6 separate regions of the Homo sapiens genome follow, and regions 1, 2, 3, 5 and 6 are each linked to region 4. The links come from fine-mapping of genetic effects on gene expression. A gene starts in region 4. Each other region holds a variant in brackets. All regions are shown on one strand. Distances are from middle to middle.

What was found. PIP is the estimated chance that this variant, and not a neighbour inherited with it, causes the effect.
Region 1: its variant is the best candidate, but not a certain one, in a credible set for the expression of CENPU in monocytes after Pam3CSK4 (Quach 2016, PIP 0.75).
Region 2: its variant is the best candidate, but not a certain one, in a credible set for the expression of CENPU in whole blood (INTERVAL, PIP 0.82).
Region 3: its variant is the best candidate, but not a certain one, in a credible set for the expression of CENPU in whole blood (INTERVAL, PIP 0.67).
Region 5: its variant is the best candidate, but not a certain one, in a credible set for the expression of CENPU in thyroid (GTEx, PIP 0.59).
Region 6: its variant is the best candidate, but not a certain one, in a credible set for the expression of CENPU in monocytes after LPS (Fairfax 2014, PIP 0.77).

What each region holds. Positions count from the first base shown.
Region 1 is chr4:185,618,317-185,622,453 of GRCh38, forward strand. It overlaps SORBS2 (sorbin and SH3 domain containing 2), which reads right to left. Exons shown (of 27, transcript NM_001395207.1): 20 at 1,747-1,835; 21 at 269-315. Among named protein-coding and RNA genes, the nearest start is that of SORBS2-AS1, 32 kb to the left of the region's middle. The variant A/T (reference allele first, on the strand shown) is at 2,149.
Region 2 is chr4:184,765,466-184,769,602 of GRCh38, forward strand. ACSL1 (acyl-CoA synthetase long chain family member 1) reads right to left here. Exons shown (of 21, transcript NM_001995.5): 12 at 2,851-2,985; 13 at 1,157-1,291; 14 at 426-521. Among named protein-coding and RNA genes, the nearest start is that of CENPU, 33 kb to the left of the region's middle. The variant G/A (reference allele first, on the strand shown) is at 2,360.
Region 3 is chr4:184,700,950-184,704,949 of GRCh38, forward strand. CENPU (centromere protein U) reads right to left here. Exons shown (of 13, transcript NM_024629.4): 9 at 1,414-1,492; 10 at 1,140-1,187. Among named protein-coding and RNA genes, the nearest start is that of CENPU, 31 kb to the right of the region's middle. The variant T/C (reference allele first, on the strand shown) is at 2,285.
Region 4 is chr4:184,731,981-184,736,103 of GRCh38, forward strand. It overlaps CENPU (centromere protein U), which reads right to left and starts at 2,116. Exons shown (of 13, transcript NM_024629.4): 1 at 2,036-2,116. The coding sequence starts at 2,082. RefSeq lists enhancers at 1,556-2,422, 1,573-1,692, 3,930-4,123 and a silencer at 2,063-2,122.
Region 5 is chr4:184,706,536-184,710,535 of GRCh38, forward strand. It overlaps CENPU (centromere protein U), which reads right to left. Exons shown (of 13, transcript NM_024629.4): 8 at 3,537-3,645. Among named protein-coding and RNA genes, the nearest start is that of CENPU, 26 kb to the right of the region's middle. The variant G/A (reference allele first, on the strand shown) is at 1,650.
Region 6 is chr4:184,661,647-184,665,783 of GRCh38, forward strand. It overlaps PRIMPOL (primase and DNA directed polymerase), which reads left to right. Exons shown (of 14, transcript NM_152683.4): 5 at 128-257. Among named protein-coding and RNA genes, the nearest start is that of PRIMPOL, 14 kb to the left of the region's middle. The variant AT/A (reference allele first, on the strand shown) is at 2,167.

The DNA.
Region 1 (4,137 bases), 890 kb after region 4:
ACAAATATTCCTAAATTCTTTTTGTTTTTCCTATCCTTTAGAATTCATTGTGTTCTACCTAACATGTTTAATGTAATTTAAAACTCAGTAATTCTCAACTAAACTTAAAATAAAAGGTAATTCTGAAGGAACCATTTAATTAGAGTAGATTGCTGCATTGGGAATTAGACCTCATTTGTAACAGATCCTACTGCAATGCTTATCTCTTAAAGCATTACTAACATTTAAAACCACCTTAAATCATATGATGAGTATTTATCTTACTTACTTAGATGTCTGAGCCTTAAAATCATAAACAGCTTTTGCAGGCAATTTCTGAAAAGGAAGATAAACAATTAGCACTAATTTAAAATTTGAATTTTCTACAAGAAAGTAGTTTAATGTGCCTTAAAGAAAAAGGAAACCTCAGGGAATCATCAAACATATGTAATGTTAATCCTGTAAGCAATTTATAAATAAGTCCATTCATTCTTCATTTAGATATTTAAGCTATAATAGGAATATAATAGAAGGCTTATTCACCATCATATTTAATCTTAGGAACTAAGGTAGATTAATGTTATAATGAGAGAATAAAATGCCTGCAGAGGTTTGCATCCTAGGCATCATTTTGGCTGTTACAAAGGCTCTTCCTAGGATAAATGTGGAGGGTCAATGGCTCTATGTTCTATGGAGATTGACACAGCTCCCTCTGAATCATAATAAAAGGACCAGATGTCATAAAAGAAGTAATCATTCCCTTCATTAGACACTTATTAACATATTAGCAAAAAATATTAGCTCAATTATCACTGGGAGGCTGGTTAGTGGGCAAAAGTATAGGTGTGATCATCTTGCATTCCCTAGAGGGCTCAGGAATCCTTCAACACTCTGTCCACCAGCCACTCGTCTTTTAGTTGTGATGTGATGTGACACGTGCCCATCCTCAAACTCTGGGGGCCACAGATCTCCCTGAGGTACCCTGTACCCTATAGCTAGCTAGGCCAGCTCTTCCTTCCTCACCAACCAACAATCCCTTCACTCCATTCTTTTCCCCCATGACTCTGGTGAACTTTAGGAATCCTGGACCATTTCTAACTTCTTTGGGGATCCCACAGGCTCTGGACTACATCAGACGCCTATAAGATCCTCTGGAGCGGCTACCAGTCCAAGTCCAGCTTTTAGTTTCCATCCAGCCGTCATGGCTCCAAGGCAGTTTGAGCAAGAACTCTAGCCCCGGCTCAGGGCCCTGGACAGAGTTCAGTTGGTGGGTGGTTCCCAGGGGCAGTATCCCGAGAACTGGGCTGGTTAAAAGCTCTTTTTAGGGATCCTCTCCAATAAAAGGAAGCCAGCAAAAATGATTTCTGTAGGCTCTGTATTGATTTACAACACAGTTGACATCAGGCTTTCTCCTGGACCAGCGGGCCAAGAAATTGTAGAGGAAACCTATTGCCTCCACGAGGTGCCCTAACTCAGGACACTTTTAGGTCATAATGGTTAAGTTCATGGGCATCAGGTCAAGACTCGGAGAAGCCTCATGGCCAAAACTGGGCCACCACTAGGGAAGACCCACAGCTAGGGTCAGGGTGTGGACTGCTTCTAGGGTCAGAGTTGCTATGCTCAGGCCCCAAGGAAAATTGTTTCTAGTTTCTCAGTATTTTCACATTTCCTGTCCGAGTTCGTTACTGGTTTGGGATAATTTTTGGCTGGTAAGTGCTGTATCAAGTGTGTTGCTGTGAAAGACTCCAATGCTATTAAATTAACTACCTCTTTTTCTGGAGTTCCTCTTCTTTCCCTTGGTGCACTTCTCCCCATGTCAGTCAAAGTGGATGAGTAACTTCTAGGGGACTCACGGTCTATTGGAAAGAACAGGGCCAGTCATGGTGAGTATCCACTTAATTACAAGCCAACCTGTTCCGCCATTTTCCCTGGTGGCCACTACTTTTTTCCCCAAATTTGGAGAGACACCGTTATCGAACACATGGGCATAAAACTCATAGTTCATTACAAAGTTGTGAAATAAGACACAAAACAAGAGCATTTCAAAAGGAAAAATATCTGAGGTTGCAGAATTATAATTGTCTATATAAATATGATTACTACATTGCTGATTAATTATATTGCCACACCCAGTAAGACAATTTATAGTTAGAGGGATTTTTCATATAA[A/T]TTTTTTCCAAAGCTTTCTGTTTCTATGCCTTTGCTTCTTATTTATAATTACTATTATAAGATTTACAGAGGATGGAGAATTTGAAAATAGCAACAATTTGTAGAAAAAGAAACATTTTGTGGAGTAATTTAAGACTGTAGTAATGAAAAAGAAAGAGATAAAACCAAAGAAAGTATGAGGATGACAGGAGGGTGGTGATGAACATTCTCCTTCTGCCTTACTCTCCCCTCTTCGCTCTTCCTCTGTTTTTAAATACTTATTGAATCTCAAGATGCCATGCTGTTTATCTACGACCTTCCTTTGTGCCCAGATGATAAACACCTTATCAGAAAGCAAAGAAACAAAGAGATATTGTTTCTTCTTACTCCAAGCAAAAAAGGGATAAACAGAAAGCATCATGTCAGTTGCCAAATTGCTTATGAAATATTGAATTATTTTTGTTCATCTTAAAGCAAAGCATAAATAATCACATTACAAAATTTTGATTGCATGTAGTTCTTAATAGTATCTTATACCTTTTGCACTTACGTGACTTACATATGGAGATGTAACTAGACATTAAATGTATTCCAGTAGTCTATGTTATAGAATTTTATCAGTACAACTGGGTCAATATTTGTCAATTCTTTCTTTTATCCCTTAAATATATCTAGTTATCCAGACTAACAAGAAGCATTAAAAATAAAATTTATTTTATCCATCTATGAAAGAATTTAAAGTGCTGATTCATAATAAGAAAACATTGTTTTAGGATTTTGACTACTTTGATGATGTAAATTCTAAGTTAATATACTTTTATGATCATAGGGCCTCATAATGATCATAAATTTTAAATTACTTTTTCTAACCCAGGGAATATAAGCTATTTTTCACTTGGGTGAAACACAATTGGAAAGTAAATATTTTACTAAAAAACAAAATACTTTTAAATGCATTTCAAAGCCCTTCCAAGTTACGTTTCAAAAATGTACTCCTATCTGCACATAAAATTGAGAGATGGTTATATTAGGATATTAAAAGCCTGGAGAAGGTAGCTAATTTATTAAAAAATGAGATTCTGACACATTTCAATTAGTGAAAATTTTGAATTGTAGAAATTGATTTTTTAAATTCTAATTTATTATTTTGAAGCATGTTGCTTCAGCCTAAGGGTAGGCAAAGATAAACGTAAGTGTATAGTGTAGCAAAAGTGAAAGCAAACATAAAGACTAAGTAGATTTGTGCAAGTTAATTAACAATCGAGCCATATTTGACACTAGTATGAACTGTGAATTATGTCTTTTTTTTTGTCTGAGATTATATTTTATACTATAAATTCTGAATTATTAGGGGTTTGAATCTCTTTTCTGTTATCTACTCTCTGTGTGACCTTGGACGAATTTCCTTTCCTCTCTGGGCCCAACTTCCAAAATTGAAAATGGCTTTTGAAATAACACCCATTTCATAGGCCTATGCCAGTTTTATTAGATAATGTATGTAAAGCACTCTGTAGTGTCTGGTGCATAGAAGTTTCTCTGTTGACCAACTTTCAGCCCGGAATGTTCATTCCAGCCTCTTAAAATTTACGTAGTGAACAGATGTGCTGTAAGAATTAATGAAAATAATTGGTCACAAATATTAAAACACCCTGGGCTGTAAGTTATATAAATCTCAAAAATAGTCCTCTGCCTTTCAATTGCTATTTATTCTTGTGTTGCCACTTCAAAGTTATCTATGAAAATAGAGTTTAGAGTCACTGTTAGCCTGAATAGTGTAATTCAAATTTCAATACAGGACTGTTTTAGCAGAAAGAGAAAGTGAATGAATTAAGTAATGGAAAAGAGAAAATGAATACACTAAATGGTGGAAATGGGACTTTTATATATATAGCTTAAAGATACATTCACAAAAATTTTATCACCATTGTGTCCTTGAAATGGAGAAAGCTATTAAACAAACCCTAATTTCTTTGTGTCCATCAATTACTAATCACATATTTCAGTTTTGCT
Region 2 (4,137 bases), 33 kb after region 4:
AACAAACATAACACACACACACAAAGTAGGGGGTGGGAAGGATAGGGGTGATGTTGGTGAAAGGACACAAAGTCTCCATCAGGAGGAACTGGTTCAAGAGCTCCATAGCACCACGTGGTGACTAGAGCTAACAACAATGTATCATATACTTGAAAACTGCCCAGAGGGTAGATTCCAAGTGTTCTCACCACGTGGGAAAAAAAAGTATGGGTGGTAAGACACATGTTAATTAGCTTCATTTAGCCATTCCACAATGTTTACATATTACATACATCAAAACATCATGTTGTTACGCCATAAATATAGATACGCTTGTCAATTAAGAAAGAACACACACACACACACACAGTACAGATGACTTTTGGTGCAGAAGAGGACTGGGCATCCTAGTGTGGGAGAATCAGGCGCCGTGACATCCACCTCACCTGACAGCCCAGGGCTGCTCTGAGGAACGTCAGCACAGTGGCAGACACCGGGGCGGCTCCTGTCACCATCAGCCGGACTCTTCCGCCCAGGCTCGACTTTCAGGGAGGGAGAGTGGGAGAAGGTGAGGGTTACACACCTGGAAGTCGGCGGCCTCTCCGCCAAGGGGGCCTGCTTGGGACCCCGTTCCCTAACCCATAGCTGCAGACCACACGGAGGCCACACGGAGAACTCACAGCCCTCATGATGGCAGCACAGGGCTACGGTTTGTTTCCACCCGTGACTGCCCTGTTCCCTCCCAATGGGGATGGAAGTCAGCCCCACCTCTGCAGAAGCTATTTCAGGGAATTAGAACACAACTGGGCAGATCTGTGGCAACTACCACAATTCTGGCCTTCTGGGGGGCATGATATTGTTACACGTTATCACTCATGCTTGAAAAATTACCTCAAGAGTGACACGCTTGTTCCGGAAAAACGCAACAAAATGGAGAATGAGAAAGGCTCCACTACCCTGACTCCTTTTCCCCCTAGATGGCTGCAATACTATTGATCTTAGAAACTGAGGCCTCCTTAATGGCTTTGCCTTAGTTTTTAAATGTGTGCCAGAATTAACAAAAACATGTTATTCTCTCCCTTACCTTCATCTCTCCCTCTCACAAAAAAGGCCCTCCCAGAACTCTGAAAAGCGAAGTCGGTTTCCATGGGAGCAGTGGCTGTGAGTCACGTGTTACCTGTACTTTGTGGAAGATCAGCCGGTCCCACAGGCTGTTGTTTCTGATGATGCCGCTGCGAAGCTCTGCTTCTTTCCTCTTGGAGGCAAAGTCCAAGAGCCATCGCTTCAGCGTGGTGTTTGCTTGTCCGAAAATCTAATGAGGCAAGACATGAGAAAGTTTTCACACCTACTAGGATGGCCAGAGTCAAAGAGTGTGGAGAAATCAGAACCCTCACACACAGCTGGGGAACACAAAATGGCACAGCTGCTCTGACAGCCTGGCCGGTCCTCTAACGGCCCCACATGGTCAGCACAGGACAGCAATTCCACACCTCGGTATACACCCAGGAGCAATGGACACATACATCCCCAAATGCCCATCGAGTAGGAATGTGTAGGCCAGGTGCGGTGGCCCACGCTTGTATTCCCAGCACTTTGGGAGGCTGAGGTGGGCAGATCTCCTGAGCTCAGGAGTTTGAGTCCAGTGTGGCCAACATGGTAAGACCCCATCTCTACAAAAAATACAGAAATTAGCCGGGCATGGTGGCACATGCCTGCGGTCCCAGCTACTCAGGAGGCTAAGGTGGGAGGACTGCTTGAGCCCTGGAGGTGGAGGCTGCAGTGAGCCATGATAACACCACTGCACTCTAGCCTGGATGACAGAGAGAGAGACCCTGTCTCAAAAAAAAAAAAAAAAAAGGAATGGATAAATAAAATGCGTTATACCCATACAGTGGAATACTATTTGGCCGTTAAAAGGAATGAAGTGCTAATACGTGCTACATGGATGCTTGTGAAAGACGCCAGTCACAAAGGAGCACATATGGCATGATTCCATCCACAGAAAAGTCCAGAATAGAGAAATACACAGATGAGCGGATGCTGAAGGGTGGAGGGGGTCGGGGAGCTGATAAAGAATAGGTAAGGGTTTCTCTTGGAGGTCATGAAAATGTTCTAAAATTGATTGTAGTGATGGCTGGAGAACTGTGAAAGTACTCAAAACCTTTGAATTACACACTTTAAATCAGCAAATTATACAGAGTATTATATGTTGATAAAGTTGTCCTTTTAAAAAGAACCATTAAAAACATAAGAACGTTCTGAGAGATAACAAAAGTCCTGCCTCAAAATAAAGAGTAAGTGAACACTCTTTCTGGAGATTGCTCATGCCCCTCGCGCCTGGCCCTGGCTGTGCGGTCCACGCAATGATACCCACCGCAGA[G/A]GGGCTGGTGTTCTCTTGGGCTCTGCTGTGGCTTAGTCACTTCTTTCAGTGTGGCCAATTAAGTAATGTTTTACATGTCCATGCAAGGAGCTTTACAATGAAGAAAACCATTTCATAGTTACTATTCTTACGTGATCCCATTAGCAACTTTTGGAGACAAACAGTAGGAGAGAAGAGGTAAACAGTCCGTGTTACACATGAGGAAGCAGAGGCTCAAAGTGTTTATTGTAAAAATAAAATGACCTCCCACATTATGCTTGTGTTGTGACCATGGTTTACAAAGTGTGTTCATGCATTTTCTCTTATAATCCTTATCAGCCACTCTGAGAGGTAAACGCATTCTAACTTTACAGATGAGTAAACTGAAGTTCTGTAAGATTGGGAGGATTGTCCAGGGTCATACAGATGGCACATGGCACAGCCCAATTCAAGCCCAAGCCCCTGCGTCCAAGTCAGTGCTCAGTCCTGGGACTTCGCTGCTTGGAACTTACTCGGTCAAACATCCGGTTCAGCAGTCTTGGAACCACGGGGAAGACAGTGGGTTGAAGCACCTTGAGGTCATCCATGAGCAGCCTGATATCTCCTTGGAAAAATCCGATTTTAGCTCCATGACACAGCATTACACACTATAGGGGTAATGGAAAAAACAAACATTTTATCACCACAGCAGGGGTTACACAACATATGGACAACATCCAACATTTCAGTTTTAGCATTTCAGGCCAGTTTCCAGAAATCTTAAATTTCCTAAATATAGGTAACTTAAAAAAAATGTGCATTTACTAGTCATTGTACAACATGGAAATGTGGTATTTCTCTTGGTTATCCTGAAGATATGGGACTCAGTAAAAAACCAGGCTATGTTGTTTTTAGTGATGACCACAGAGGTTCTACTCTTTTAGTGCGGTGGTAAGTATCTGTTCAATGAATGACATGGTATTACATATTCTAAATATTTTTAGTGGCTGGGCGCGGTGGCTTACACCTATAATCCCAGCACTTTGGGAGGCCGAGGCAGGTGGATCACTTGAGGTCAGGAGTTCCAGTCGAGCCTGGCCACGTTACGGTGAAACCCCATCTCTACTAAAACAAAAATTAGCCGGGCTTGGTGGCGGGTGCCCATAGTCCCAGCGACTCAGGAGGCTGAGGCTGGAGAATCGCTTGAACCCAGGAGGCGGAGATTGCAGTGGGCTGAGATTGTGCCACTGCTCTCCAGCCTGGGCCACGGAGGGAGACTCTGTCTCAAATATATATATATATATATATATATAGCCTTCCAGAAACTTTACATTTAATTTATTCTCAAAATAAAAACTTAACTTCTTGCCTAGAGTCCAAGTTTGTTAAAGTCTCACTTTCTTTTGTTTGAATCTAACTAGAAGTTTCTGAAAGGCCACCAAGTATGATGAATTTGTGACACCAGGGTATCTAATACCAGAGTGGCTTGCCATTCAGCTAGAATACACTGCATGATTTTTTTCCTGTCTAGTACAAACCATGCTGGCAAGCCATATGGACCTGACAGTTTGCCTATTTTAAAATTTAAAAAGAAAAGATTCAAAAGATGACACAAGGGAAGTACAAATGTTCTCTGTCTTAGAAGCAGAAACCACGAGAAAGGTACACCATGGTTCACTGTTTAACAATTACAGCTCAGAAAGCTTTTGTTCAGCGTGGCCTGCCTTCTAGGCACACCTCTAAAACTCGTTAGGTACAGCAACTCATGTGAGATTGCTTTATAAACCCAGAAGACTCTGAGGTGTGCAGGAAGTAGAAGG
Region 3 (4,000 bases), 31 kb before region 4:
GGTAATGAAGTGCAGTGGAAAACAAGACAGACCCAGTTCTTACCATCACAGACTTTGGTCTAATGGGGAAGACAGACATTACATAGAAACAGTATGTATTTACAGCTTGTGATATGTAGGAAAAGAAGAGAGAACTCTGGAAAAGAAAAGCAGGGGTATCTACTTCAGAATGACCAGAGGAAGGAAAGCAGGGGCCAGGTCTTTACTGGACCCTGTGACCTGTAAAGTGAGGAGATTTTATCTAGGCATACTAGGAAACTATCAAAGCAGGGGAGTGTTGTGATCCACTCTGTATTTTAAAAGAAATATTTCATATTTTATTATCTCGGACATTCAGTCACTTTTAGTGACTACCTAATTCTCCATTGTTAGACATTCATAATGTTCCCACTCCGTAATAAGCAATGCAGAAATGACCAATAAGAGATTAAAACTGAAAAACAAAAACATCCCAGAGCTTGCAATCACTGGAAGGAAAACGTATGTATTTCAAGTCCACTTCTACTTTAAATGTAGAGGTGGACTTCCACTCCTGGATTCACCTCTGATGCTCAGAGGTCATTTGGTCCAACCATTTCCAGGTAAGCAAAGGAGACTCTCATGCTGGCTGGCTTGTCACCCACTGCAGACCCAGTGGTATACAGCTTATAGGTGGTATAGCAATGAAGCAGCAGAACCAGGACTAGACATGAGGTCTCCTGACCCTTAACCCAGTATTCTTCCCAGGCTGTCCTACCTGGGACAGTTCTTTATTCTAAAAGGTTGTGCTTTTCGACATCCACAAAAGCAATAAATATATATTAATATTTATCCATGTAAGTGGTCATTTTGGACTGGGTAGTTTTTTTAAAGCTACCTTTGTGACATTAATAAAAGGCTTAAATTTCTGTCTTTAATTATAAAAACAATTATTTTGACACTCGTGCAGCCTTAGGAAACAAAAGTGACTAGGATCCCCATTCCTTACCTTGCATTAATAATACCAACCGTATCAACCACAAGATCAACCAAATAAAAGCCTGACAAGATTATGAAATCTACTCACACTCTAAAGGCTGTAAACCCAGAGTCAAGTCTTCGCATAACTCTACATTAGTATTGTGTTTGACTCTATGACTCTAATCACATAAATAATTTACCTTAGCATTCTTCCTTTTCAGATTTGTCAACATCTGGCTTTCTTTAAGCTACACAAAACAAAAAATACACATGTACATCAGTTTCCAAAAGTAAATGTTAATTAGTTTCACATGTGTCACATTTAGTTTAAAAACAGTTATGTGGAATATGAATAGTTCTAATGAGTTTATTACCATACTGCCAGCAAATGCAAGCTTTTCTAAGACAACAATATGCTGCTACAGGATTAGTGAAAAAAACCTTAGACCAACAAATGCATGTCCGTGAGCTTACCATTTTGATGAATTGTTCTTTAACATTAACATAAAATGTGGCGATGGCTGCCTTACAAACTTTAGATTCTATTCTTTGTCTGTAGAGGAATTAAAAAAAAGTCTAAGTACCATGATGGATTTTGAAAGGTGTTTCATTTGCTTAGCATACAAACAAACATACACATACAATTTGGCATATACCTTTTTTTATTTTAAAAATATCTTTAATCTCTTATTTTTAATAATCTCAATGTTTTAGATTAAGGGGTTTGTTATATGGGCATACTGCATGACACTGACGTTTGGGGTACAACTGACCCCACCACTCAGGTAGCGAGCATAGTAGCAAACAGGTTGTTTTCAGTCCTTGAATCCCTCTGTCTCTCTTCCCTCTAGGAGTCCCCAGTGTCTATTGTTGCCATCTTTATGTCCATGTGCACCCAGTGTTTAGCTCCCACTTATAAGTAAGAACACGCGGTATTTGGCTTTCTGTTCCTGCAATAATTCACTTGGGATAATGACCTCCAGCTGCATCCATATTGCTGCAAAGGACATGATTTTGTTCTTTTTTATAGCTGTGTAGTATTCCATGGTCTATATGTACCATATTTTCTTTATCCAACCCACAGTTGATGGGCACTTAGGTTGATTCCGTCTTTACTATCATGGATAATGCTGCAATGAACATATGAGAGCACCATTTTAAATAACTAAGATGGCAATGTTCAGCCTGAAAAAAACACCGGAAACATGTATCAGCAAAAGAAAAAGAACAAACATATTATTCCCTAAGCCCTCTGGTACGGGGTCATCTTAATTCCCTGATACTGACCAACCTCACAGGTGATACCAAGTAAGGTAGAAATGCTTATGGATACTCCCAATCTTTT[T/C]CTGCTAACTGATAGACCCAGCAGACTTTATTCCCTCCCTCTTTGCCTGTTAGCAAAAGGAGGAGCAACTGTGTAACACATCTGGACTAGCCAAAAAGTAGCCATAAATCAGGTGTTAGTTCTTCAGAAACTATAAAGCTGACTCAAAGAAACTGCCTCAGGTCTCTGTCACTGGGGAGAAGAGATCTGGTGGCCAGGCTCTGATTCTCCTGGCTTGGCTCACTCACCCATTAAGATGGCTATTATTAAAAAAAAACAAAACAACAAGTGTTGGTGAGAAAGTACAGAAATAGGAACCCTTGTGTTGCTGGTGGAAATGTAAAATGATATAGTCACTGTGGAAAACAGTATTGGCAGTTCCAAAAAAATAAATAAATTAAATTAATTAAACACAGAATTACCACATGATCCAGCAATTCCTCTTCTAGGTACATACACAAAAGAATTGAAAGCACGGACTTGAATATCAATTGTACACCAATGTTTGTAGCAGCATTATTCACAATAGCCAAAAGGTGGGAACAACTCAAGTGTCCATTGATAGATGAATGGATAAAGGAAATGTGTTAAAATCATGACCACATAACAATGTCTCAGTCAACGATGGATGGCACATACAGTGGTAGACCCATAAGACAATAATGGAGCTAAAAATTTCTAATCACCTAGTGACACTGTTGCCATCATAATGTCATAGCACAATGCATTATGCACATACTTGTGGTGATGCTGGTGTAAACAAACCTATAGTGTTGCCTAGCTGTGTAAAAGTATAGCACACATACTTAGGTATACTACATAATACTAGGTAATAAATTACTAAGTGCCCCAAACAGGTGTAACATACTTCATCTTTTTTTTTTTTGAGATAAGGTCTCACTCTGTCACCCCCGCTGGACTGAGTAGTGTGATCATGGCTCACTGCAGCCTCAAACTCCTTGACTCCAGTGATCCTCCTGCCTCAGCCTCCCGTGTAGCTGGGACTACAGGCATATGCCACCACGCCTAATTTTTAACTTTTTTGTAGAAAACAGGTCTCATTATGTTGCCCAGGCTCATTTTTTATCTTTTATACTGTATTTTTACTGTACCTTTTCTATGTTTAGATACACAACTTACCATCATGCTACAATTATCTACAGTACTCAATACAGTAACATGCTGTCCAAGTGTGTATCCTGGGAGGAATAGGCAACACATCATATAGCCGCGGCATGTACTAGGCTTACACCTAAGCCTAGTACATGCCATCTAAGTTGGTTTAAGTACACTGTTAACACAATGACAAAACTGCCTAAGGATGCAGTTCTCAGAACACATCCCCGTTGTTAAGTGACATGAATGTGTATACATGACTGAATATGATTCCACCTTAATAAGTAAATTCTGACACATGCTATGACATGGGTGAGCCTTGAGGACATTATGCTGAGTGAAATAAGACAGTCACAAAAGGACAAATATTGTATGATTCCACTCATATGAGGTACCCAGAACAGTTAGATTTATAGAGACAAAGTAGAATGGTGATTGCTGGGGGAGGGAGGAATGAGGAGTCATTGCTCGAATGGGTACAAAGCTACCGTTTCCTAAGGCTTTAGTTCTAGAGATGGGCTGCTTAACAAGTTGCACACAGTTAACACACAATAAAAAGAAAATATTTCTACACTTCACACCTATCACAATGGCTAAAATAAAAATTAGTGAGAACACCAA
Region 4 (4,123 bases):
ATTCATGGTACAATTTCTAAAATCAAGAAATTTAACACTGATACCATAATCTAATCTACAGTCCATACCCAAATCACATCAATTGTCCTATAATGTCTTTTAAGATTGCCAGGCCAGCATTTTTAAAAAAACAAACAATAAAAAAGGAAAATATAAAATGAAGCATTGCACTGGATATACTATGTTCACAAGCCTTTTGTTTTATGTGTGGATGTGTGCACACGTGTACTAAGTGTGATGTAAAACATCATTACTGTGAATCACAGTTAAAAAAAAAAAGTTAGAAAACTGTTCAGAGCGGTGGTTCCCAGACTTGAGTGTCATCAAAATTCTCAAGAGGGCTTGTTGAACAGGTTGCTTGGCACCACCCCAGGAGTGTCTGATTCAGTCCCTCTGGGGTGAGGTCTGGGATTCTGCATTTCTAACAAGTTCACGATTTATTTATTTAATTCATGAAACCTAAGGAAGCAGGTAAGACAAGTATTGGTTTTATGGCAATTTTATAGATGATGATTCCGGGATTCAGAAAATTTAAGTGACTTATCAAGGGTCACATAGCCAGGTAACAGAAACCCAGCTACACACTAGACCACATAAACTTCTTAACCTAAACTCTTTGAGCTGTCTTGTCCTTTCTTGGGGGGGAAAAAAAGTCAAGGTTCCTCCTTGCCTTACGCTGGAGTCAAGGTGGGGCTTCTGAGAGACAGAAACCTCTGTGACAACCCACAGGTAAAATTTCTGGGCCAGGCGCGGTGGCTCATGCCTGTAATCTCAGCGCTTTGGGAACCCCAGGAGGGCGGATCACGAGGTGAGGAAATCAAGACCATCCTGGCCAACATGGTGAAACCCCGTCTTTACTAAAAATACAAAAATTAGCTGGACGTGGGGGCGAGCGCCTGTAATCCCAGCTCCTCTGGAGTCTGAGGCAGGAAAATCGCTTGAACCTGGGAGGCGGAGATTGCGCCACTGCACTCCAGCCTGGGCCACAGAGTGAGACTCCGTCTCAAAAAAAAAAAAAAAAAAAAATTCTGTTGTATGTGCGTAAGTGTGTTTTGGGAGGAGGCATGAACAGATTTCATGAGTCTCAAACCCAAAAATGTTAAAAGATAAAAATAAAAAAAGACAACAAAAACCACTAGCCTTTCAGATAAACTCTTTTCAGCTGACATTGAAGGCTGACATTCTCTTCTAATCCTTTTTTGCACTGGGGGAGTCTTCATTCTCCTCCACTGGCCACAGAAGTCTGGTCTCGGTTTCCCCACCCACCTGCGGTGTCCTGCTCCAGCTTTTCCACCCTAACCCCGCATCTACCAGCACCTCCTCCTCCAGGCAGCCTTCCCAGGCCCGGGGGAACTCCTGTTCTCTTCAGATCGTCTTGGCGTATGGCTTTGTGCACCGTCTGCAGCAAGCCGAGACCCTTCCCGCCAGATCCAGGCCGGGCCTTGGATGGCCATTCGCCAACGAATCAGCGACCAGCATTCTAGAGCGCGTTTTGCAACCGACCAAACGCTCGCTTTCTTTGGTAAACAAAAACCGCTCGAGCCATCCTGGAGAACCGCAAGCGGCAGCTCGGTCCCCCAGCCGGATTTATGCTCCAGTTTACGGTCTGTGGTTTGCAGTAAGAAAACACCAGGGTCTTCAAAATAAGAAAACTGATTCCCAGTCAGAGAATAAAACTCCACTAACAAAGTCTGGCAAACCGCAGGCAATACGTATTTGCTGAATATTTTGCTTTCAAGCTAGCACTTTGAGACTCACTACTTTGGACGGCACTCCCCCTCCCCACAAAACGACACGACACTGGCTGACGTCTCTCCCACCCGCCAGGCAGTGTTAGGCCCCGACAGGCCCGTGCAGGTGGGATCACTGTTATCCCCACTAGACTGAGGAGGAAGCCGGGGACCCGGGCGATTGGCCACTCGGGCGACCTCCACAGTGGAGCACCAACAGCGCCGGGAGGCGCAAACCACGGCAGGCGAGGAAGCAGTTCAAGCTGGTCTCCGGCCCCGCGCTCCCGAGGGTCGGCAGTACTTACCCCTCAGACCTGTGAGGCCGCGGCCGCCGCCGCCCCCGCGGGGCCATGGTGCCGCTCTCCGCTCTCGAGCGACTGGAAGCTCCCGCCAAGCCCCTCGCCGCTCCGAACAGCCAATCCGGGCCGAGCACGCGCGCGTGCGCAGGACTTCCTGAGCGGCCCCCGGGCTCCTCCCTGGCCTGGAGCGTGAGGGAAAACTGGGTCTGGTTATTACAGCGCAACGGAGCTGGAGTCCATGCCGCACAACCAGTTACCTACGGTCCAAAACATGCCAAAGTTTTCCGGGCTTTCGCGCCCACCCGCATCGCCAGTTTTCCGGCGCCAGAAAGCCCGGGAGCCACGTGGGACGGCCCCTTGTGGGGTGGGGAAAGGGGAGGAGCTAGTGTCCCTGAGTCGTGGGCAGGTAAGAGGGTGGGTGGAGACCCGTGTTCGCAGCTGTTGTCGCTGAGGCCGCAGTCGTCTTTCCAGGCCTACAGGATTTGGCTTCCAGCCCCTGCTGCCTTTATCAGCTGTCTGAGCTTAGCATGTTACTTTACCGCTATCCCAATACCTTCATTTGTAAATGGACAGGGTTCCTTTTGTTCTTTTATTTTGTTTGTGTTTAAAAATGTGTAATGCAGAAGAATGTAATTGAACCCTTACCTTACACCGCGTATAAAAATTAACGCAAAATGAATCAAAGACCTAACTATAAAGGCTAAAATTAAAACTCTTAGAAGAAAACAGAGCAAAAACTTCATAACATTGGACTTGGTATGATTTCTTGGATATGATACCAAAAGCAGTTTGGGATGATGAAAACGTTCTGGAAATAGTGGTGGATGGATGCACAAGGTGAAGGTACTTAATGCCACAATACTGTAAAGTTAAAAACGGTTAAAATGCTAAATTTTGTTATGTATATTTTACTACGACAAAAATATTACGTTTCATGCATATGAAAGAATATAACGTGTAATGTAAAGATAAAAACAAACATCCGTGTAACCAGCACTACATGGGGATATGGATCATTTTTATATATAACTCTTGGGTACCCCTCTGAATGGTATCCTCCTCCTCCAAAGAATAACCACTCTTCTGATTTTATGTGTATCATTCCTGTGGTTTTCTACCTTGATATAGCCCCAAATAATGTATTGATTATTGTATGTTTCTAAACTTTATATGATATTTGGTAGGTATGCTGCAAGTGCCCTTTCTTACTAAAGCTATTGCTTTTATTTTTTATTTATTTTATTTTTCCATAAATTATTGGGGTGCAGGTGCTATTTGGTTACATGAGTAAGTTCTTTTTTTTTTTTTTTTTTTTTTTTTGAGTTGGAGTTTTGCTCTGTCGACCAGGCTGGAGTGCAGTGGCCTGATTTTGGCTCACTGCAAGCTCTGCCTCCCGGGTTCATGCCATTCTCCTGCCTCAACCTCCGAAGTAGCTGGGACTACAGGGGCCCGCCACCACGCCCGGCTAATTTTTTTGTATTTTTAGTAGAGACGGGGTTTCACCGTGTTAGTCAGGAAGGTCTCGATCTCCTGACCTCGTGATCTGCCCACCTCAGCCTCCCAAAGTGCTGGGATGACAGGCGTGAGCCACGGCGCCCGGCCTATTTATATTTTTTATTTTAATTTCTTTTTTTTTTTTCAAGATGGAGTCTTGCTCTGTCACCCAGGCTGGAGTGCAATGGCACAATCTTGGTGGGGGGGACTATCTTTTCTGGAATTTTAGGATCCCTCCTCAGACAAGCAGGCCTAACAAAAGCTATTCCTGAAGGTATGCTATGAGGAGCCTCAGAAATTGTATCCTTCCTATTCATGTAAGTGAAGATAAAAGGTGTCACTCTTCCAGCCTTGGACATCCCTTCCCTCCCTCAGGGTATGGCCCTCCACTTCATTTTTGGGGCATAACATCTTTATAGGACAGGGATAAAGTCCCAATACTAACAGGAGAATGCTTAGGACCCTTAACAGTTTTTCGAGAATGTGTTGGTAAGGGCCACTAAATCCGACCTTCCTTGGTCCTCCATGTGGTCTGGGAGGAAAACTAGTGTTTCTGCTGCTGCGTCGGTGAGTGCAACTATTCCGATCAGCAGGGTCCAG
Region 5 (4,000 bases), 26 kb before region 4:
TGTAATGTTGCATTTCATGGCATACTTCCCTACTTATACATAAACTGCTTATCATCAGTTCATACTGATATGACAGTGAAGCTATTCAGGTGTGAGTGCTAGGTACAGGATATTACAAACAGACCCTTAAACAGTTGTTGACTTAATTTTGAAAGAGTGAAGTGTTTCACGTGGCTGAGAACACCATATTGTCAAGGAAACAAAATGAGATCAGTGATTCACCAGAATTCTTATTTGGTATGACAAAAACACAAGGTTGTACTGCAATAAGTCTAAGAAAAAATACTATGCCTCTTCTAAATCATTTCTTATATCAAGAACTTACTACCCACTGCAGCAACTCAGACCTCTGTCCCTGTGTCCTTACTACCCACTGGGTGGTAAGTTCTTGATATAAGAAATGATTTAGAAGGGGACAATGCCATTTTCCCTAAAACATCAGAAGTCTATAATAAGCTTCCTATAAGAGATTTGTGAATAGGTAAAGGATAACACAAGCAAGATGGTCTTGGGTGTGTTAACAGAACTGTCCTAGTTTTAACAGGAAACTGGCTCTGGAATATAAAGAAGAGTAAAACAGGCACTTCTCACAATGATAATGATGAGTTGGCATGACAGGCTGGCTCCTTTCCCCAAGCTCACCCAGAACTACAGAGGGAATACCAAGAAAATGGAGAAAGCTGTGAAAACCCTGAGGGGAAGGTCATGTAGAGAGAATAACTGCTGTAAGGAGTGGCGCTGTGGCCAGGGCAGGAATAGAGAGCTGCAGGAAACTGACTCCTGCCTCTTCCCATCACCGATCTCATCAATAGTGTGCCTGCTCACCCCCGCTCCCCTGCCCCCTGCAGCAACTGAGACCTCTGTCCCTGTGTCCTCAAGACTGAAACTGGGGTTGGACTTGTGGGGCCTAGAGAAAAACATGGGAGGCTGACTGACTTTGGGCAGCTGTTTCCTCACCCTTCCCCAGCCAAACCCCCATGCTGGAGAATGATGACCCAGAGTCCATCTTTTCTTCCTGCTGCTCCTCTCTGGAGGGCGAGGAGTGAAGTGCTGACCTGACAGGCTGTTTTGTGAGATGAGTCGCTGAGGCTGCCCATCCTAGGGCTTACCCCACCCCCTGCACTGACGGGCACTAACAGGGACTGGGGTTTGGCCTTCTTCTATACATACTGTCTGACAGAAGCTGACAGGCCCAGGGGAAAATAAGCTCAGAGGCTGGAATAACAGGATGCTGGAGGAACCCAACTATTTCAAACGGAAAACACATATTATATCCGAAACCTTACCAGAAGCAGGTATTTTAGAATAGCTGATCCAGTAATTTGAAATTAGCCCAACAGATATTCTAAGGAAGATATTAGCAGCATAAAACATGAATACAAGACACAAAGCAAGCAGCAGAAATAGCTGGGCGCGGTGGCTCACACCTGAAATCCCAGCACTTTGGGAGGCCAAAGTGGGTGGATCACTTGAGATCAGGAGTTTGAGAGCAGACTGGCCGACATAGTGAAACCCCATCTCTACTAAAAATACAAAAAATTAGCTGGGCGTGGTGGCGCATGCTTGTAATCCCAGCTATTTGGGAGGCTGAGGCAGGTGAATCGCTTGAACCTGGGAGGTGGAAGTTGCAGGGACTGAGATCGCGCTAC[G/A]GCACTCTAGCCTGGGTGATAGAGTGAGACTCCATCTCAAAAAAAAAAAAAAAAAAAAAAGCAGAAATATTAATATAAAAGCTAAGTTAAATAAAGAACTCAACAGATGGGACAAATGGCAGAATGGATATTTCTAAGAATAAATTAGCAAATCTAATTTCTTAGATTGAGGAAATCTCCCAGTGAATGAAGCAAAGGATAAGAGAACAAAAAAGAAAATCAGGATAAAAATATTTTAAATTCTTAGAATTAAAAAAATTTGTTCAGCAGCAATAGAATAAAAAAATAAAAAATTAAAAAACCTTGGAATGAAAAGGTCAGACTCAATATAGTGAAATTTAAGAATATCAAAGAAAAAAAATAACAGTTTAGAGAGCTAAAGAACAGATCACATTCAAAGAAATAAGAATTAGATAGACATCAAATTTTCCAAAAGCAACACTTGATGTAAAAGAATACAAAGTTTCCAAAGTATTTAAGAAAATAATTTAGAACCTAAAGTATTATATCCAGCTAAGCTGTCATTCAAATTCAAGGGTATAATCAAAATAATCAGAAGGTTTAGAAGTTTTGCAACATAAAGAGTCACACTGAGGTGTTGGATGAAATGCTTAAATATGAGAAAATACTTATCTACAGGATATTGCAAGAAAATATATGAGATAAAAGTGATCAAATACCTAAGTGAATTTTGTTGTTGTCTTAAAAACAGAGACAGACACACACAACAGAAGGGGAAATTCTATCTACCTTAATTTAGAATTAAAGGTGGGGAGTTATAAATACAACTTTTTTAAGTTAAAAAAAATTCAGAACATCAAAAAGTAGAATAAAAAAGTTAAAGAAGTAACAATATATCAACATATTGTTCAAGATATATCGATATTACAATAAATGTTAATGGACTAAACAGTTGAAATTCAAAGACTGATACACTGTATTTAAAAAGACTAATAAGGAAATTAAAATTTAAGGTCGCAAAAAGGTTGGAAGTAAAAGAAATTAAAAAGAATGTAAAATCTGGCCGGGTGCAGTGGCTCACGTCTATAATCCCAGCACTTTGGGAGGCTGAGGTGGGCAGATCACGAGATCAGGAGATCGAGACCATCCTGGCCAACATGGTGAAACCCTGTCTCTACTAAAAATGCAAAAATTAGCTGGGCGGGGTGGCACATGCCTGTAGTCCCAGCTACTTGGGAGGCTGAGGCAGGAGAATTGCTTGAACCCGGGAGGTGGAGGTTTCAGTGAGCCGAGATCTCTCCACTCTACTCCAGCCTGGAGACAGAGAGAGACTCCATCTCAAAAAAAAAAAAAATCTGCCAAATGCTAGCAAAAGAAAACTATGATGCATATTAGTATCAGGTAAAATAAATTTTAAGACAAAGTATGTTTAGGAATAGAGTGGGTGACCAACTAAAATGTTCAATTTGCAAGACAGAGCAATTTTAAACATGATTTTCCTAATAGTCTCTAAATATATACAGCACAAATGAATAGAAGTACCAAGAAAAACTGAACATAGATCCAATAATTAGAGATTCTATCTAGATCTAATGATTAGAAATTCCACACAGATCATGTACCAGGTCATGAAGAAAGCCTCAAAATTTAAAAAAAAAAAAAGGTATCACTGGACCATGATCTTTGACCACAACATATTTAAGATAGAAGGTTAATACAAAAATATAAATTTAAAAGTCTACATATTTGGGACAAATAAAAACATATGAATTCTTCAAAGAATTAAAGAAAAAATTATAATAAAATGTAAAAATATCTAAAACAATGACAATGAAAATAGTACATAACAAAAACTGTAGGATGAGCAAAAATGGTGCTTCAGGGGAAATTTATTAGGTAAATATAGCACATCATCAAAAGACTTACTGATGCTCTAGGTGGGTTTTCTCAAATTCAGGCAAAACAATATTCAACTCCTTGATGTCACTGGTTTTCATTCCTTCTGGACACCAAATGTGCACAATGTCAGAAGTATCTAAAATATTAAGATAAGTTAACATGCTGGTTATTCATATTTTGGCTGTAGGTCCAGGGTTCTGAAAGCCTGACACAAAAATAGTCTCACCAAATTGTAAAAGATAGCTACAGCTGAACAATCAGAGAGGAGGTGCCGTACTCACTTCTTATCCCTGTGCACAGTCTCGCAAACCCCTACATACACTTTCACTCTAACTGCTGTCTCGCTGGTTCTCCTATTTCTGCTAAAGCAACCAAAAGCATTGCTGCCTTTTAATCACCTTACTGCATCTTTATTTAGTATTGTGCTGTTATTTAACATTACTGGGGATAAGCTCTTCATTGTTAGCTGTATTTTCTGAATTTTAATCTAT
Region 6 (4,137 bases), 70 kb before region 4:
AGTGAACCGAGATCACACCACTGCAGTCCAGCCTGGGCAACAGAGCTGACTCAGTCTCAGTCAGTCAATCAATCAATCAATAAAGGTATAATATATCAATTTAACAATCTTGAATTATTCAATTTAGAAAAAATCTCTTACACTGCTATGAAGTTATTCCTGAAAATGCTGTGTGCAAGCTTTATTTTGATTTGGAATTTAACAAACCTGCCAACCCAGGAGCTGATGGGAAAAAGATGGTTGCATTACTCATTGAGGTAAATGGCCAACTCAAGTTTTTCTTATTTCTATCCATCTCTTCATTGGCTTATTCATTCAGTGAATTCAGCCTACATAATAGTAGGTTCTGTATCTCTTCTTTTTCTTGCTACTCTTCCTTTTGACTTTAGGATTTTTTAATATTACTTGTATGAGTAAACTGTGAAAAGGAAGGAAAGTTCAATTTGTGTTCATATAGTTTGCAATTTTGCTGTCTGGTAAAAAAAATGCTTTGAAAAAGATGTCAGTTTGAAAATTTTCTATATTTTAAAATTATATATTAATTCTCTGACTTCCATTACGAATAGCTGACTTTGGTAAAACCAGGCAAAATAATTTTTACTGTAAAAATTGGGTACTGAGATGAACCTCAAGAACACTGACTACAAATAGTATTAGAATTTTCAAGCTTGCAGGAATTTTGGAAATCATCTTATCTTGTCCCTTTCAAAATGAGGAAATTAAGGCCCAGACGAAACTAATTCCTATTCAAGGTCCTACAGCTAGTAATGGTAAAATCTTGTCTAAAAATATAGTTACTATTTTTAACTAAGAGAAAAAATACTGTAGTTCTTTATTTTTGATTTAGCTGTGTCAACCAGGAAGTTACTAATAAAAGGAATAGCATGGACTTGTGCAGCTAAGTTCTATTAGGATTATTTCAAAAAAAATTTTCAGATTGTATCACAGGAAGTTGTGTTAAAATTGTATTGACTATTATTCAGCCTAAGTGTAGGTACTGACACTTACTGACTAGCTATTTTTCTTTTAAATGTTAACTGAATAATAATGTTATAGATTACCCATTTTATAACTTTTAAAATATATCCAGATTAAAATGTTTTTGATAAAGAATATCTGCTAGTATTCTCTGTTGGACCTCTACATGCTTGATTTTAAATCTTTGTGAAAATGTATGTGAATGCTATTTAAAAAATATATAGAATGTTAGCTTTATCCTGGCTTTGAAGCAGAAGAAATATATATAAAGTCCCCCACCACCCCCAAAAAAAACCCCAAATTATATTTTTCTTCAAATAGCCATTGAACCCTTAAAAATAAATTTAGATGCTTATTTCATTACAGCTGGTAAATTCTGTTTAATTTTAAACCTTTATTATTATTATTATTATTATTATTATTATTATTATTATTTCTGAGACAGAGTCTAGCTCTGTCACCCAGACTGGAGTGCAGTGGTGTGATCTCAGCTCACTGCAATCTCTGCCTCCCAGGTTCAAGCAGTTCTCCTGCCTCAGCCTCCCGAGTAGCTGGGATTACAGGTGTGTGCCACCATACCTGGCTAATTTTTGTATTTTTAGTAGAGATAGGGTTTTGCCATGTTGGCCAGGCTGTTCTTGAACTCCTGGCCTCAAGTGATACACCCATCTCCGCCTCCCAAAGTGCTGGGATTATAGGCGCGAGCCATTGTGCCTGGCCTAATTATGTTTTTAGTAATTCATAAGTATTGACTTTCTTCTACAGTCTAAAGTAAGATTTCTTGTGTAGTTTCTCCATGGGCTACAAGGAACCTCGATTCAGAGATTTTCACTGCCACTTAACATTGCATATTAGCAAAGAAGTACCACATTGCATTAGAAACTAGAAATATTTCTAATGAAATGAACACTGGAGCAAATTTCATTTGTAACACATATTAATAAACACTGGTATGGCAAAGACCATGTAGGTGTTTAGAATTTTTTTCTCCTTATTCTTTATACTACTTTATCCAAATGAGTCTTGAGCAGCTAATCTTCTGCATCAGCAAAACTGTTGGAAGAAACTGTAGAAATCGAAGTTCAAAATTATACAGCATTTTTATTTAACATGTTTACCATGTTGATAGAACAGTTCTCATTGGATTACTTTACTTAATATAATGCTTTTTATAATGATTACATTGAA[AT/A]TAATTTCATTTATTGGTTACTTTGTATGCAATAAGTTTATAATCCAGTAAGTACTTTTTCCTTTGAGTCTTACTGTGAGGAGGCATAATTAGGTTAGCTCTTATGCTAATTTAGCAGATGGTTAATAATAATTGGTGATAATGTAAAATACCCTGTGGTTCAGTGGCTAAACTGACACATTTCAATAAGCCCCTTCTCCACAGTTAGAATGAATTCTGGTGCTAATGTATTTTATTAGGACCACATTTCAGGGCAACATTGTCCACTCATGTAAGTTTAACTTCTGGATTTTATAATTTAATTATTTAAGTAACTTAAAGTTTTAATTAAAGTTAATCTTGGGAAATAGAATTTAGGAGAATATGATTACTTGTCCTACCTAAAGCATCACTAAATTTATTCTCTGTAGCTCCGAAAGTACAGAAGTCGACTTCATTCATCAAATAGTTTTTAGTCCCTACTAAGTGTCAGGCACTGTGCCCAGGCACTAGGATTACCAAGTGGTAAGTCAAAGAGACATAATGTCTGATGGCATACACTTTGTAGTCTAATGGAGGATAATACGTTAGGATAGATTTAGCTGCCATAATAAAGACCCAAAATTAAACTGGCTTAAACAAGACAGAAACCTATTTCTCCCCCAAGTAATATCTAATGTGGCTCCGTACTGTTAGGGACTAGGCTTGTTGCTTTGCTGTCCCTAAGATGTTGCCTTCTTCCATTGTCCAAGATGGCTCATACCACTGTGTCTGCATTCTAGTCAGTACAAATGGAGAAGGGGACGGTACGCCCTTTGCCTGTTAGAGGATCACTTAGAAGTGGCATACTTTCCTTCTCACGTCCCATTGGCCAGACTTAGCAGCCACACCCTGCTGTAGAGGAGCCTGGGAAATGTAGTCTTTGTTCTGGATGGCCTCCAATCTAGCTAAAAAATTGGGATTCTGCTTCTACAGAGGGAGAGAACAAATATGGAGGAAGAGCCCCTGTAATACAGAGGAAACATGTCAAACTAATCACATAAATCAACCTAAAATTGTAAGTCTATAAAGAGAAAAAGAGTATGTAGGGGGAATTTGATGTAGAGAGGGAAATCAAGGAAGCCCTCTCTGAGAAAGAATTTACAGAAGAGTAAAGCCAGAGGGCATGAGGACAGTGTGGTGTTAGAAGAATCCCAAAATATCATTAAAAATACAGTTTATTGCGTAACTTTGAGGTATCTAAACTGACGGCAGTTCATAAACATTTTTGCTCATGTCAAGATAATATTGCATGGTAGTTCTTAGTAGCTTCATTTTGCAAATGAGAAAATTGAAGCTTTAGGGACTTGTCCTAAGGCTGCACAACCAAGGCTTTTTTAAGCAGTTACATGTGCTAAAAATTTCCATTTTCTTTTTTATTCCTTAAAGCAACTCCAAAAGGTAGCTGCTATTATTATTCCTGTTTAGCAGCTGGGAAATGTTAAGGTTTAGATTTGACCAAAGCCATAGAGCTGGCAGATGGCAAAGCCAAAACTGACACTGACCTGTCTCTGACTCCAGCCCCCGTGCTTGCTGCCTTTCTATTGTGCATGGCCTTCATGCCCAGTGCCTTGTAGTCTCAGAGGCTGTATTCTTAGAGCTGGAGTCAGGCTCAATATGAACTAGACACTTTCTGGTAATTAAAACCATTAAAAAAAATGAATTAATGACTTTTTTTTTTTTTTTTTTTGAGATGGAGTCTCACACTGTCACCCAGACTGGAGTGCAGTGGCACCATCTTGGCTGACTGCAATCTCCGCCTCCTGGGTTCAGGTGATCTTCCTGCCTCGGCCTCCTGAGTAGCTGGGACTTATAGACACCTGCCACCACGCCTGGCTAATTTTTATGGTTTTAGTAGAGACTGGGTTTTACCATGTTGGCTAGGCTGGTCTCAAACTTCTGACTTCAAGTAATCTGCCCGCCTTGGCCTCCCAAAGTGCTGGGATTACAGG